2 linked regions of the Homo sapiens genome follow. The protein of the gene in region 1 interacts with the protein of each later gene in a pairwise test. Each region holds a gene or a part of one and is shown in the gene's direction. Other genes may lie near its edges.

Region 1 (7,957 bases):
TAATTTTTCTCCTGGCTGGGAGCCTGTCTTGGCTCTAGAGAAGAAGGCTAGGCTGACCAGTGGGGAATTCTGCTCAGGGAGACTGATTGAGTACCCAGAGTTATGAGTCCCACCTAAATCAAAGGTTAATGAAATATCAAGTAAGATGTGGAAGTACAAGATTCATTAAGCCCAAATGTCACTCAGAAGATACTTAGTGTTTACTATAGGACAAACATTGGGCTAGGACCTTAATGGTGAACTAACAGAGACTCTGCCCTAAATTGGTAATATAGTAGGCTTTCAAGCAAACAGGCAATTATATGTGCTAAGATAGAGTTAAGCAGAGAATGCTATGGAAGCATGTAAGAACAGTTAATCTAATCTGTGTGGCTTTGGGAAAGCTCTAAGGATGGAATGTTAAGACTTCTGCTACTAGTTCGAATACAGAAAGATGCATGAAAGCCTTTTATTTAGTGGTAATAAGAAATAACCAGATAAAAATCATACTTTTTATGGGGCTGTTGAAAAGCCATGTATGTAAGACCTTAATGAAATAAATTCTATAGTCATGCCTATGTTTGGAGGAACATAGTTGAGCAGAGAGCTGTGGCATTGCCATGCCCAGGGAGAAGGGCGTGGTCTGGATACAAGTAGATGGAAGAACAAGCCTGCAACACTCTAGGAGACTTTGCAGAGTTAAGGAGAAAGTGGCTAAGACTTTGCTACAAGCTGGTGAGACAGACTTGGGTCTGGAAGGACCTCAATCACGAAAATAAATCACTTGGGCCTACACCCTACCCCTAAGATTGCTAAGAAAGCAGTAATGGAGGAAATGTTTTCGGTAAGTAGAATTCACTAAATCTTGCACATTCTTATGGTGCTTGGATTCCTGAGCCCTGCTGAAGCTGAATCCGAAGGTGAACCAAATGATCTGAAACTATGGCCCATCCCTCTCTAACACAGACAAGATCCAAGAGCTCAGTCCTTTGCAGGAGGTTGAATTGAATTAACTGCAGGTAAACTTAATCTAAAGCTGCAGCCCAGCATCAGCTCAATTCAAATTGTGAATGAATCTGAATGTTCCATTTCTCACTGAACTTTGTTCTTTTTTTCACAATGTCCATAATAAAATTAAAAATTATAAGACATGCTAAAAAGCAGGAAACATAACCCATAATTAGGAAAAAGTTGTCAATAGAACCAGGCACATAGATGAACCAGAAATTGGCATTATTAGATAAGGACTTTTTAAAAACTTATAAATTTGGTTTTTTTAATATAGAGGAAAAGATGAATGAAGGGAATTTCAAGAGAAAAACAAACTCTAAAAAACAGATTTTTAGAAAAAAATACATCTGAAATCAACTTATTAGATGAGTTCTGGAACTAAATTGGAAACTAGAAAATAGTTAAATTGGAAACTAGAAAATACTTGAAGATAGGTTTGTAAGAATTATCCACACTGAAACACAGGGAGAAAAGAAAATGATTGGGGGGAAATGAGCAGAGCACCGTGATCTATGGGCAAAATCAAGCAGTCTAACATACAAGTATTTTTGAAGTCCCAGAAAAAGAGAAAAATGACAAAAACATTTTTTGAAGAATTAATGGCCAAAAATCTTTCTTCCAAATTTGATTTAGAACACCAACCCACAGATCTGAGCAGCTCAGCAAACTACAAGCAGGATAAATACAAAGAAAACCATACCCATACCCCACGCACATTATATTCAAACTTGAAAACCAAGGATAAAGGAGAGAAGATATGTGAAGAATGAGTAGGAGTTAGCCAGGCAGGGGTTGTTGGGAAGCAGGGGAGATTGTTCCAGGCAGAGGGAAGACAACATCTTGAAAGACCCACACACAGCAAGCAATTCCAGGAATTGAAAGAAGTTATTTGGGGCTAAGGAGAAAGTTATAACAGTGAGAGGTAAGGTTAAAGAAGTGGCCAAGAGCCACAGAGAGGACCTGTGAGCATAGTATCTGAGGGAGATGGGGAACAAAATTATATCCTGAGTAATATAATCAGATTTGTCTTTTTAAAAATCACTATGGCTACAATGTGTGGAGTAGCTTGGAGAGACACAAAATGGAGGCAGGAAGAGGCTATTGCAGTAACCCAGGCACAAAAGTGTGTTGTACAGAACTTGAGATATGGCAGTAAGGATGGAGAGTTACAGACTGATTCAAGAACTACTTAGGAAGTAGAAGAGGTAAGATTTGATGAATGACTAGATGTAAAGGAGGATGGAGTAAAGAGTGACTGTTAGACCTATGCAACATTTCCAGGTTCAGCCACCTACCCTCAAGTCACATTCATTACCTTGTACCAAACAGAATGTCCCGAAATGCAATTCTGATCATGCCACCCCCTGCTTAAAAGCTCTTCTGTAGCTCCCATCATTTCTCTGCTCTAGATCTTTCCATGACTTCCCATCATACCCAGAGTGAAAGCCAAAGTCCTTATGATGTCCCATAAAGCTCTGCATGATCAGGTCTCCACATAACTTTTAGCCATCATGTCCTTCAGTTCCCCACCTTGCTCACTCTGCTTCAGCTATACTGGCTTCCAATGTAAGGTCTGGGTTAGATATATAAATGTGAGAAACTCTAGAGATTGGGGACATAAGAAGCAACCAGCAAAAGAAACTGAAAGGAAATGACCATAGTGATACAAAGAAAACCAGAGAAGATCTGCCTTCCTGAAAGAAAAATTAAGAAAGTTCAATCAGGAGAAGGTGATCACGCTAAGGTTAAGCTGGGCAACGTGCAACTTTAAGAAACACCACCCACACCCAAATAATTGCTACAGATGGCCTATGAATCACATTAGATAAACATGGACTATAGTATCAAATCTGGCATAAAAGGCCCTTAAACGAAAATTTTCTGGCTACGTCTCCTGAGGCAGAATAGGGTCTGGAGGCAGGGAACCTAACGCCGATTCACGCTGACTTCCTAGAACTAAATCAAAAGGTAAACCCCAAATTTCCACACCTAAGTAACAAAAGGACCAGCGGCTACTCCCTTTGCAAATCCCCACCTTTTCTGACAGGCAGATGGAAATTGAAAGTACCTCAACCAATCAGACTGATTGCGGGCCAAATCTTCCTTTGCATAGAAGTGCAACTAAGTAACATCACTTTAGCCAATGATTGGTTGCTTTCCACAACCAATCAGATGTTTGTATAGGAGTATGACCTTTGTCATTTTACTTCAGCCTCTGATTGGTTGCTTTCCATAACCAATCAGACTGATTGTGGGCCACCACTTCATTTGCATGAGGAGAACACCAGTGTCCAATGGGAAATCTCTAGTGGGTATTTGGACCTAAGAAGATTCTGTATCCAGTACACTGTGGAGCGTACTTTGGTTTTCAATGAATCTTTGCTTTTGTTGGTTCATTCTCTCCTTGATTTGTGCGTTTTGTCCAATTCTTTGTTCAAAAGAACCTGGACACCCTCCACCAGTAACACTCTTACCTCATTTCCTACCATTCTCCATTTATGGGATTATTTGCTTCAACCAAACCAACAGGCCAGGTGCCAGTGGCTCACACCTATAATCCCAGCACTTAGGGAGGCCAAGGCATGAGGATCATTTGAGCCAAAGGGTTTGAGACTAAGGTGAGCTATGATCCTCACTGCACGCCAGACTGGGTAACAAAGCGAGACCCCCCATCTTTAAAACAAAACTGCCCACTGCAGTCTTGGTCTTCATCTTTTTGATGCTCCCTGTAAGTGGCAGTCACTTCCGTAGGTTTGTGCCTCACATCTAGTAGTTGACATTTTATTTCATGTTTTAAAAACCTTTGGAAGACCAGGCGCGTTGGCTCACGCCTGTAATCCCAGCACTCTGTGAGGCTGAGGCAGGAGAATCGTGTGAGGCTGAGGCAGGAGAATCGCTTGAGGCCAGGAGTTCGAGACCAGCCTGGGGAAATAGCGAGAACTTGTGTGTATACACACACACACGCTTTGGAAGTAGGTCTTATTTCTCATTCTTCAGGGCATAAACCTCTCCCGTGCAGCAATCAAACTCAATCTTTGTTTTCCCAGTAAAAGCCTAGCAGAGTATATGGCACTTAGGATTAACAACAACAAAAAAAAAATTGTTGCTCAAGGAATGACGGAGTTATTATATAACAGACAGGACTAAGTAGGGATAACCTCAAAAGGACGCAACTTCTGGCTTTGTTTTTTTGTTTTGTTTTGTTGCCTCCTTTCTAAGATTTCAGTGCTCTAACTGCATCCTTGCACCACCGCGCGCCACCCCGAAATTGACGTCACAATCTGGACTAAAACTACCAATCCCAGAATGCCGAGCGAGGAGGCGGGCTCTCCGGAAGCCGCCGAGTGATTAGTGAGCGGAGAAGCTTTCTTCCGGCGGGAAGGGCCCCGGAGGCGGGCACTTGGGGGGAAAGTTGAGACGTGATTACCGGGTTGGGCGGGCCCCATCTGGGAGGGGTTTGTGGGTGAACTCGGGGTCCACCGCCCGCTGAGGAGATGGATGAGGACGGGCTTCCTCTCATGGGGTCAGGCATAGACCTGACCAAGGTTTGTAAAAGACGGTGCTAGACTCCCGACGAGCCGGGAGGAGGATGGGGAAGACGCAGCTTTCCGGGGAGACACCCACCTTCCGAGTCCCCACCCTGTCACGGCCTCGGGCCCTTGTGACAGGCCTGTGGGGCCTCAGGAGGGAGAGCCCCACAGTCCACCTTGAAATGGGGTCCCTCCTGAGCTGATTAAGGAGACGGTGTGCATCTCCCAACTGTCGCTTCCCATCTCGCTTGTCTCTCTGCCGCCGGCGACACACGCCGGTTGCGATAGCTAGCCCTACCTCTTATTCAGCCCCCAAGATTTTGTGTGTGTTTATGTGTGGTGCTTTTTGCCTGCCAAAATTCGTACCAGTGAGTCTAGAGCCTGTTCTCAAACTTTTGTGCACCTCTGTCATCTTCGGACACCCCACCCACAGCTTAGGAAACAAGTTAATGACTATTCCCAGTCCTTCAAGAAATTCATATCACACAGCAAAGTGCCTCGTGATTATGTCCAAATATGAAAAGATTTGCACTGTGTACGTTCCTCCTGTATGAACCATGTTTGTTTTTACGTAACACAGGTGCCAGCTATTCAACAGAAAAGAACGGTGGCTTTTCTAAACCAATTTGTGGTGCACACTGTACAGTTCCTCAACCGCTTTTCTACAGTTTGTGAGGAGGTAGGTCCGGTGATACTGGTTTATAGAGTCGCCTGGAAATCACCTTTCACTGCTGAGACTGACAAATGGAGTAAAACAAGAATTACAGTCTTTATTCATGTACCGTGACCTCTCATCACCCAATTGTGTTAACACATCTTAGGTTCTCTTTTACTCTGTTAAAATCAATCCTGCACCCCTCCTCTACTGAGTTAGTGTTCTAGAGGTCCCTGTGAGATAGGTCAGTCAGGCTTATTGCGATTAAAGGGAACAATAGGAAATCTAATTTTTTTTTTTTTTTTTTTTTTTTTTGTGAGACAGGGTCTCACTCTGTCACCCAAGCTACAGTGCAGTGGCGCGATCTCGGCTCACTGCAACCTCCACCTCCCGGGTTCAAGCGATTCTCCTGCCTCAGCCTCCTGAGTAGCTGGGATTACAGGCATGCGCCACCATGCCTGGCTAATTTTTTATATTTAGTAGAAACGGGGTTCCAACATGTTGATCAAGCTGGTCTCGAATTCCTGACCTTGGGCGATCCACTAGCCTCGGCCTCCCAAAGTGCTGGGATTACAGGCGTGAGCCACCGCGCCCGGCTTCTAAAATTTCACAGTTGAAAACAGTTTTTATTTTGCAATTTGTCATTCGTTCCCGTACCCCAAAACCACATTGTTTAAATTTATTTTACATTCTGGATCTAAAAGATGGCTAGAGGAGATAGCCTAGAAACATAACTTTGGCATCAAATATGATTATAGAAATGAAAATATTTTCTGCAAATGACTTGTGATGTAAGGATTAAGTACCCAACTAGGGATTAGGTACCAGAACTGGCACAGCAGTGCGCACCTGTAATCCCAGCTACTCGGGAGGCAGAGGCAGGAGGATCACTTGCGCCCGGGAATTTGAGACAAGACTGGACAACAGAGAAACTCAGTGTTTTGTTTTTGTTTTTGTTTTAAAAAAGAGGATTAGGTACTAGATCCAGGATCCAGGGAATCCCTGTCTTTTAAAAAGCCAAAAGAGGATGGGGAAGACAATGGGAACCATGGGTTGAAATTGCATTTAAGGAAAGAGCAAAGTAAATTATGGGACTTAGATATTCACAAGTAAGTCTGTTGAACATTCTGTCTTATGTAAGGTATAGCCTTAGCAATTAGAGTTTTTGTTAAGTGTGTTACTACTATTAATAAAAATTGCATGGAGATGGGAAAACTATTTTTTACTTGTATGAAATTCCAGTTATTGTTTTGTCTAATTATCAACATTTCTTCTGCCTTCTAAGACAAAGTAAAATATAGTAATTGGTAGAGTAAGGGGCTTAATTCAATTTAGTTTTATATGTTAATGGCCAGAAACTAGGTGCTTGCTTCCAGTCAGTTTTATTTCGTTCCTACTATCTCTCTAAATAATTTAGGATATAAAATTGACTGAATAAAAACCAGTAAGCCAAGGTTTTCACCCTTCGATTTTTATACCAGGGCAAGATGGAGAAGTATCTGGAAAGGGACTGTCCCAGGATTACTAGCAGAAAGAAGCAAATACTCTTATCCCCATAGCCCTTATCATCAAGCTGAAAAATAAAGAACAAAGCAACAAGTAAACACACCTATGAAAGCAACTTGTTTGAGCTGTCCTGAAACAGGGATAGCCCTTCACCTTTGTAGTGCCTAATGGTTCTTGAATGAGAGCTGTTTACTGACAACTAGATCAAAGAAAACAATAGTCATCTCATTTATTGATAGATTATGATCAAAGCCTCATGAGTCACTCTTTAACCTCCTCCTGTTCCTGTCTCAACTTCTCTGCAGCTGTTCTGGCTGTATCTGTATTCTAGTACTTCTTTGAACTCTAGAGAAAAGTTTGTTCATCAAAACCTCATGAAGTTTAAAGGTAGTCTATTGCCTTTTGTCCTTTTTCAAAAATCTTATTTCTTTATTTAAATTGACAGGTAAAAATTGTATTTTTATGATGTACAACATGATGTTTTGATATATGAATACATTGTGGAATGGCCAAACCAAGCTATTTAACATAAGCAATGCCTCACGTACTTACTTTTTTTTGTGGTGAGCACACTTAAAATCGCCTCTCTTAGCAATTTTCAATACAATATATTGTTATTAACAGCAGTCACCATGACATGTAGGAGATCTCTTGAACTTATTCCTCCTGCCTAACTGAAATTTTGTATCCTTTAACCGCATCTCCCCAATCCTCTTAACCCCAAGCCCCTGCTAACCACCATTCTACTCAATATTTCTATGAGTTGTACTTTTTTATCCTCCATATATAAGTGAGATCATTCAGTATCTGTCTCTGTTTGACTGGCTTATTTCATTTAACACAATGTCTTCCAGTTCATTTATGTTGTCACAAATGACAGGATTTCATTCTTTTTTAAGGCTAAATAGTATTCCATTGTGTATATATACCACTTTTTTTAATCCATTCATCCATTGATGGACACTTTTGATTCCGTATCTTGGCTATTGTGAATAATGTTGCAGTGAACTTTCAAGTACAGATGTCTCTTGAATGTACTAATTTTACATCCTTTGGATATATACCCAGAAGTGGGATTGCTGGATCATATAGTAGTTCTATTTTTAATTTTTTGTGGAACCTCTGTACTATTTTCTATAATAGCTGTACTAATTTACATTCCCACCAACAGTGTACAGAGGTTCCCTTCATCACATATATGGTTTCCAAATATAGTCTCCCATTCCATAGGTTCTCTTCACTCTATTGATGGTTTCGTTGGCTGTGCAAAAGCTTC
Region 2 (7,663 bases), on another chromosome or scaffold:
GGCCTCCTGCTCTTGCCACCTCATGGTCTCCACTTGCCACCTTCCCTCTGGGCACCTCCAGGCCTGTGGCCCCACTTCCACGCAGTGCTGTCTTCCGGCACAGAATTGTGAGTCTCACTTCATCATCCCTCCATAAGTCCACACACTTGCCAGGATCTCTTTGTAGCGGAGCATACATCCTTGCCCCTTAGCTTTGGGCTTGGCCATGTGACTAACTTTGCCCAATGGCACATGGCAAAAGCAACAGTGTGACAGTTCTGAGCTAAGCCTCAAGAGGCTTCCCATGGTTCCACTTGCTCTCTTCTCCTTTGCCAAGAGAATGTGCCCCAGCAGCCCTGTGATTCCAGGAGAAGGACAGGAGATCTGTGGAGCAGACTCAGAGCTGCAGATCTGCAAACATGAGCAATAATAAATGATTGTTGTTTGAAAGTATGGAGTTTTAGAGACATTTGGTACACAGTGTTCTAGTGGTAATCCAACCTCCCAATCTGTGGCAAATTCAACATGTCTGAGGGAAGATCTGATTGGATCCTCTGGTCACCACCCAAAATGCAGCTGCTCAAAAACCAGTCACCCATGAGCCAATGATCACTCTCCTGTCCAGTCTGTAGATGGCTGCTTTGGGCTGGGGCACTCATCTCGGCTCCAGGCAGTTGTCCCATGATTACAGGGCATGTGACAAAGCCTGGTGGCCTGTTTGAAGGAATCATCTCTGGCCCCTTGTGTTCAGAAGGGGTATAAATGTGGCAGAAAGGAGTTTCTCTGATTCTCTTGGGTTCTGAAAAGTAACAGCTGAACTACGAGAAATAGCACATAAGACTTTGTCTGCATGTGGCAGTCAGAACGATTCTCAAGCTGTAAACGCCAGGATATAAGAAATGTGACATTCCTTACAACTCGATTTAGTAACTATTTTGAGCCTCATTATGCCTAAGAGGGAAAAGACGAGGCCCAAGTTCACACAGACAGTTTGGCAGAGCTGGAGTTAGAACCCAGATATCCTGGCTCCTTATTACAATATCCCTTTTCCTGCCTCGTCAGTCTTATACTTGGAAGGAACTCCAGGTCCCATCTCCAAGCCAGTAGAGCCCCTACTCCAGTCTCTTTGATCATCTGGGCTATGCTTCTGCCCTCCATTGACTGAGCACCCACTGCTTGGAAAAATTCTAAACAACACCTTCCTCCTACTGAATCCCAGTCTGCTTCCCTTTGTCCTATACCCACTGTATAGGACAAAGGTAGTGATGTACAGCTACCGCTGTAGTGATGCAGGTGAACCCTAAAATTGGGGCTCAGTCAGGGGAGGTTCTTGGCTTCATAAAGGAAAGAATTCAAGAGTGAGCCAACAAAGTAAAGTGAAAGCAAAGCAAGTTTATTAGAGCAACAGAGTACAGGAAATGACTGCTCCATAGACAGAGCAGGGCTACCCCATCAGCACAGTAGCCTTTGTGGATTGCTGGCTGACTATATTAATAGCTACTTTTTATTATATGCTAAATAAAGGGTAGATTATTCACAAATTTTCAAGAAAAGAGGTGGGGTATTCCCCAGACTGGGGGTTCCTCCCCTTTTAAACCATGTAAGGTAAGTTTCAGGCATTGTCATGGCATTTGTAAACTGTCGTGGTACCGGTGGGAGTGTCTTTTAGCATCCTAATGAATTATAATTAACATTCCGTGAGGAATGAGGGCAACTAGAGGTTGCTTTCATTGCCATCTCGATCTTAGTTGGTTTTGGCTGCCTACTTCATGGCATCCTGTTTGAACAGATCCTGTTTTGATCAGTGGAGTTGTGACTGGGATTGTAACCAGTGCTCGGAGAACAAGTCTTGCTGATCTCCTACCTCACTAGCTCTGTCTTCTGGTGCTACAATAAATATACACTCTTTTCTCTTTAACTTATAAACACTTACTGTAATTTTAAGTTCTATAAATTCTATTGCATTCTTTTTCAAATCTGCCTGTTAAAAAGTGTCTCTTTTGGCCGGGCACAGTGGCTCATGCCTGCAATCCCAGCACTTTGGGAGGCTGAGGCAGGTGGATCACTTGAGGTCAGGAGTTTGAGATCAGCCTGGCCAACATGGTGACACCCCATCTCTACTAAAAATACAAAAATTAATTGGATGTGGTGGTAGGTGCCTATAATTCCAGCTACTTGAGAGGCTGAGGCAGGAGAATTGCTTGAACCTGGGAGGCAGAGGCTGCAGTGAGCCGAGATTGCACCATTGCACTCCAGCCTGGGTGACAAGAGTGAAACTCCTTCTCAAAAAAAGAAAAAGAAAAAAGTGTCTCTTTTTTTGTATGATTTTGATTCCTTCTTGTATGCCTCTTCTTTTCAAAATACTTTTCTTTTGAGACAGGGTGGAGTGCAGTGGTGCAATCAAAGCTCACTACGGCCTCGACCTCTTGGGCTCAAGCAATCCTTCTGACTCAGCCTCCTGAGAAGCTGGTACTACAGGCACGTGCCACCACACCTGGCTAATTATTGTATTTTATTTTGTTTAGATAAGGGGTCTTGCTATGTTGCCCAGGCTGGTCTCAAACTCCTGGCCTCAAGTAGTCCTCCTGCATTGGCCTCTCAAAATGTTCGGATTACAGGTGTGAGCCACCATACCTGGCCTCAAAATACTTTTAATTATCTTCATCTGAAGTTCTTGGGGGAAGGGGGTGAATGGTGTCTGTTGACTCTCATTTATGGTGAATGGCTTCCTTGTGTGTTCTTATATGAGTTCATCTTCAGGGGAGCTCTATCTGAGGATATTTTGTGTAGCCAGATTGAGGGCAAGTTTCCCTAAACTCGGCTGAGTTTGCTTTGCCAGTCATTTCACATCTTTATCTGGGGTCACTATGCTAATTCTTGGTTTGGAGTTTCTAGTGCATGTGAATAGAATAAATTTATATATATACATTTGCAGTCTCAGTTCACTGCAACCTCCGCCTCCTGGGTTCAAGAAATTCTCCTGCTCCAGCCTCCTGAGTAGCTGGGATTACAGGCGCCCACAACCACACCCGGCTAATTTTTGTATTTTTAGTAGAGACGGGGTTTCACCATGTTTAGCCAGGCTGGTCTCGAACTCCTGGCCTCAGGTGATCCGCCCACCTCGGCCTCCCAAAGTGCTGGTATTACAGGCGTGAGCCATCACGCCTGCCCAATAAATTTATATTTTAAAAGACCTATGTGAGAATAGAGTCTACATATTTTCATCGTAGCATTAATTTGATTGTTTGTTTCCAATGACTACTAGGATGTCAGCTCCAGGAAAGCAGGGCCTTTGTTTCTCTGATTTTGGTTGATAACCCCAGTGTCTAGAGCAGAACTCGGCACACAGTAGACATTCAATAAGTGTTTAGCGAAAGAGAGAATTGAATACCTGCTTCACGGTGTGATGATGTCAGTGGCATTTGAACCAGAGTAACTCCATCTTGAATAGGGGCTGGGTAAAATGAGGATGAGACCCACTGGGCTGCATTCCCAGATGGTTAAGGCATTCTAAGTCACAGGATGAGATCAACACAAGATACAGGTCGTAAAGACCTTGCTGATAAAACAATTGCAGTAAAGAAAGTGGCTAAATCTCACCAAAACCAAGATGGCCACAAGAGTGACCTCTGGTCATCCTCACTGCTACACTCCCACCAGCGCCATGACAGGTTACAGATGCGATGACAACATCAGGAAGTTACCCTATATGGTCTAAAAAGGGGAGACATGAATAATCTACCCCTTGTTTAGCAGATCATCAAAAAATAACCATAAAAATGGGCAACCAGCAGCCCTCAAGGCTGCTTTATCTATGGAGTAGCCATTCTTTTATTCCTTTACTTTCCTAATAAACTTGCTTTCATTTTACTGTATGGACTCCCCCTGAATTCTTTATTGCATGAGATCCAAGAACCCTCCCTTGGGGTCTGGGTTGGGACCCCTTTCCTATAACAATGGGAAGAATAAATGGTGTGTCAGGACTGTGTTTGCCTGCAAGTAGCAGAGTGTTCCATTAGACATCGGGTCTGTTTTCTCATATAGATGCTGTTGCCGAGTCAGGGGTGCAATGATTTCTAATGGCTCTGTGATTTTCTTGGGCTTTGTCTTATGGTCGCAAGACAGTTACCATAGCTCCAGACATTACATCCACATTCAAGGCAGAAGGAAAAGGGAGAAAGTAGGAGTAAAAGGGAAGCAGCAGTGACATTTTCCCTTTTGTTAGGAAGGTAAAAGTTTTTCTGGAAGCCTAACAGCAAATTGCTGCTTTGATCTCATTTGCTGGAAATGGGTCACATGGGGATTCCAGAAACAAGGAAACTTGGAAAGTGAGCATTTCCTTTATCTGGACTCTATAGATAAGTAAATGAGGACAGGGACTTGGGACACCCGTGGAGGTATATGCCAAATGAGACATATACATAGTTTATATGTAAAGCACAAAGCAAACCCTTAGAAAAGAGTGCCTATTTTCATAATAACCATATTGTTGCCATTTAAAGCTTTGCATTCTCTGTGATCCTGTTGGCATCACATATTCTTGGCTTCTGGAACAGCAGGCTCCAAGGTACTCGGACCCATAATGGTCTCCCTCCCTTCCTCCTTGTTCTGTTCAGAGCACTAAAGCCCTTTAAAAAAAAAAAAAAAGCCAGATTACATTTTTCAATGTGAGCTACTTCCTGCTCTCATTAACTCCATCTTCAGTGATTTGGCCAGAACCTGCTGCCAGTCTGAAAGAGTTGGGGGAATGTACAAGTCAAAGATCCCTCGGGCCCAGAACCAGGTCAGTGTCAAGGTCACTCCTAAGAACACTGAGATGAAAATAGCAGAAGAGCCCAGCCCGAGTCTTGGGCAGACCTTGGAGTGGCTGAGAAAGGAGCTGGTAAGGTTTTGCATTGCTTTTCCTTGATGCCCCGACTACATATTTTCCAAAGATCTCTGGTTTTCCTTCCCGGGTCCCCCCTGGGGCAGAGGCTGCAGGCTACGGTATGGACCCTGCAGTCTCCCCTCTGGGACCTACCACACAATGCACAATTGTGATCTCAGGTTCAGGGATAAGTAGGTCGTGGCCTATATGGGAGGTGCTGGGTGTGGTGCTGGCCAGACTGGTTTTAGAATGACACTGAGTCCTCCGTGTGTGCTGAGTCCTCTGTGTGGCTCTAGCAGGGGATTTATCTCTTTGAGCCTCAGTTTCCTTATCACAAAATGGGAATAACAATAGTACCAATATCATATGGGGTATTGTAAGGATTCACTGAAGAGATGCTTGTAATCCTCTTAATGAATACTTGGCACCGTGGTGCTGGCTATTATAACCCTGACCCAGATGGACATGCGTACACCCAATGTCTTAGCCTGGGTCCCCTAGAAAGCAGAGGCTTGGACAAGGATTGAGAAACTAGCACTTTATTTGGAAGTACAAGCCAAGGGTGGTGATAGGGAGGAACATAGGGTGTGGCAGCAGAGGCCAATGCTATGCCAGGCAATTACGCCAGACATTGTATTACCAAGCAGCCTACGGCTTCAGAAGTTGCCTTAAGGAGGCCCAGTGGGTGTCTCAGCAGCTGAGATGCTCTGCAGGGGTTGAAGGAGGAACTGCACATTGGGGGAGAGAGAACGAGAGGAAATTCATCTGCCCAGCTCGTTCCTGTCTCTCATTTCCCATTGGCAAGGGCCTCCCCCATGGAGCACTAACTCTCCTGACCCGATGTTATGTTACTTGGTCCTGTGGTTGCTGCTCAGGAAGCCAGGCTTATGCCTTTCATTATGGTATTTTCTCCAAGTCCGAAAAAAGAGGGGTGCCCCCAAGTGTGTGGGGACACCAGCCAGGAGAGAGGAGGCAGCTCAGGGAACCTCAGAAGAGGTTTGTTTCTCAATATACACACCTCTCATCCTGGGGAGAGACAGACAGGATTGTCCAAAAATGACCTTTCTGGGTTGCCAGGCAACAGGCCAGCTGGGACCCAACCCTGTCATCACCCCAGAGGAAGGGCTGACCCAGTAGGGTTTCTCATGGGACCAGGGAATTCCAGCAGCAGGGACTGCAGCTTCCCACAGTCAGCAGGCATCCAGCACTGGGCAGCTGTCTTCCTTATGCTCCCTGAAACTGTGGGTGCCTGGATGCCTCATCACCACCTCCGTGCTGGGAACCCCACTGTGGTCTTGTAGGCGCATACCCAGAAATATGTGCAGGAGGAAAACCCTAAAATCGAGAAAACACAGAGTGAATGTTTTCTGAGGAATTAGGAAAAAATGGGCCCAGGACCACTCGCTCTGCAGCCTGAGTCGTCCCAGTGTTCTGAGGGAGGCCGACTACACCTTTGCTTCACGTCTTTCCTTTTTTTTTTTTTTTTTGAGATGAAGCCTCACTCTGTCGCCCAGGCTGGAGTGTAGTGGCACGATCTCGGCTCACTACAACCTCCGCCTCCTGGGTTCAAGTGATTCCCCTGCCTCGGCCTCCCTAGTAGCTGGGATTACAGGCGCATGCCACCACGGCTGGCTAATTTTTTTGTATTTTTAGTAGAGACCGGGTTTCACCATGTTGGCCAGGCTGGTCTTGAACTCCTGACCTCAGGCAATCTGCCCACCTCGGCCTCTCAAAGTGCTGGGATTACAGGTGGGAGCCACTGGGCCTGGCCTCACATCTCTCTTTCTAGCTACATATTCTCTTGGCAGTGTTACTCATGCTTGAGTAGAGGATGCAGACTTGGTCTTCTTACTTGTAATCAGCTTGTCACAAAAATGAAAACACTATTTTTAGTGGGGAAATAATGTTCATAAGTATCTCTTGCAAAGAGAGACAGAGAAAGAGAGAGGCTGAGAATCTGTATATCTAACCATGTGTTGCCCCGACCAGCTTTGGAAGGAAAAACAGAAGCATTTGCAGTGGCTGCCTCTGGAGAAGGACGCTTGAGTTGAGGGATAAAGTGAGGTGGGTGGGAGAGACTTTTAAATATATGTCCTTTTGTAGCTTTTAAATTTTCTATCATGTGTTAAGAATTACTTAGTCAAAAAATAGAATTTTAACATTTTTAAAGAGAAAGCGAACTTTGGGAGCTGAGTTGAGAGGATCGCGTGAGCCCAGGAGTCTGAGACCAGCCTGGGCAACATGGCAAGACATTGCCTCTACAAAAAATAGCCGGGCATGGTGGTGTGCACCTGGAGTCCCAGCTACTCGGGAGGCTGAGGTGGGAGGATCAGTTGAACCCAGGAGCTCGAGGCTGCAGTGAGCCGTTATTGCACCACTGCACTCCAGCCTGGGCAACACAGTGAGACCCCGCCTCAAAAATAAATAAATAAATAAATAAACAGAAAGAAAAAGAGAGAAAATGTATGGGAAAAAATTCTCAGGAAAAAATGGGAGAAAGAATGGAGATGGCTGAAGATGACAGGAGAGTTCTAATGCAGCAGTTCTCAAACTTTTGGGTCTTAGGAACCCTTTATGCCCCAAAAAATTATTAAGGCCACCAAAAAGCTTTTGTTTACGTGAGTTATATATAACAATACTGACTGAATTAGAAGCCAAAGCTGAGACATTTTTAATATATTTACTAATGCATTCTAAAATAATAACAAATTCATAATATGTTAATAAAACATTACTTATTCAAAATAACTATATTTTTCAAAGCAAATATTTAGTGGGAAGAGTAGCCCCATTTTACATTGTTGCAAATTGCTTTAA

Evidence for each region. Proteins that work in one complex are often made in the same cells at the same time.
Region 2: the proteins of WASHC3 (region 1) and C20orf202 interact in binary tests that used the Homo sapiens proteins (3 or more experiments, as listed by UniProt).

What each region holds. Positions count from the first base shown.
Region 1 is NC_000012.12:102,058,490-102,066,446, reverse strand, and holds the start of WASHC3 (WASH complex subunit 3), read left to right. Parts: upstream 1-4,455; 5' UTR 4,456-4,484; coding exon 4,485-4,535; intron 4,536-5,100; coding exon 5,101-5,199; intron 5,200-7,957. UniProt on the Homo sapiens protein: Acts as a component of the WASH core complex that functions as a nucleation-promoting factor (NPF) at the surface of endosomes, where it recruits and activates the Arp2/3 complex to induce actin polymerization, playing a key role in the fission of tubules that serve as transport intermediates during endosome sorting.
Region 2 is NC_000020.11:1,198,791-1,206,453, forward strand, and holds the start of C20orf202 (uncharacterized protein C20orf202), read left to right. Parts: upstream 1-4,663; 5' UTR 4,664-4,795; coding exon 4,796-4,861; intron 4,862-7,663.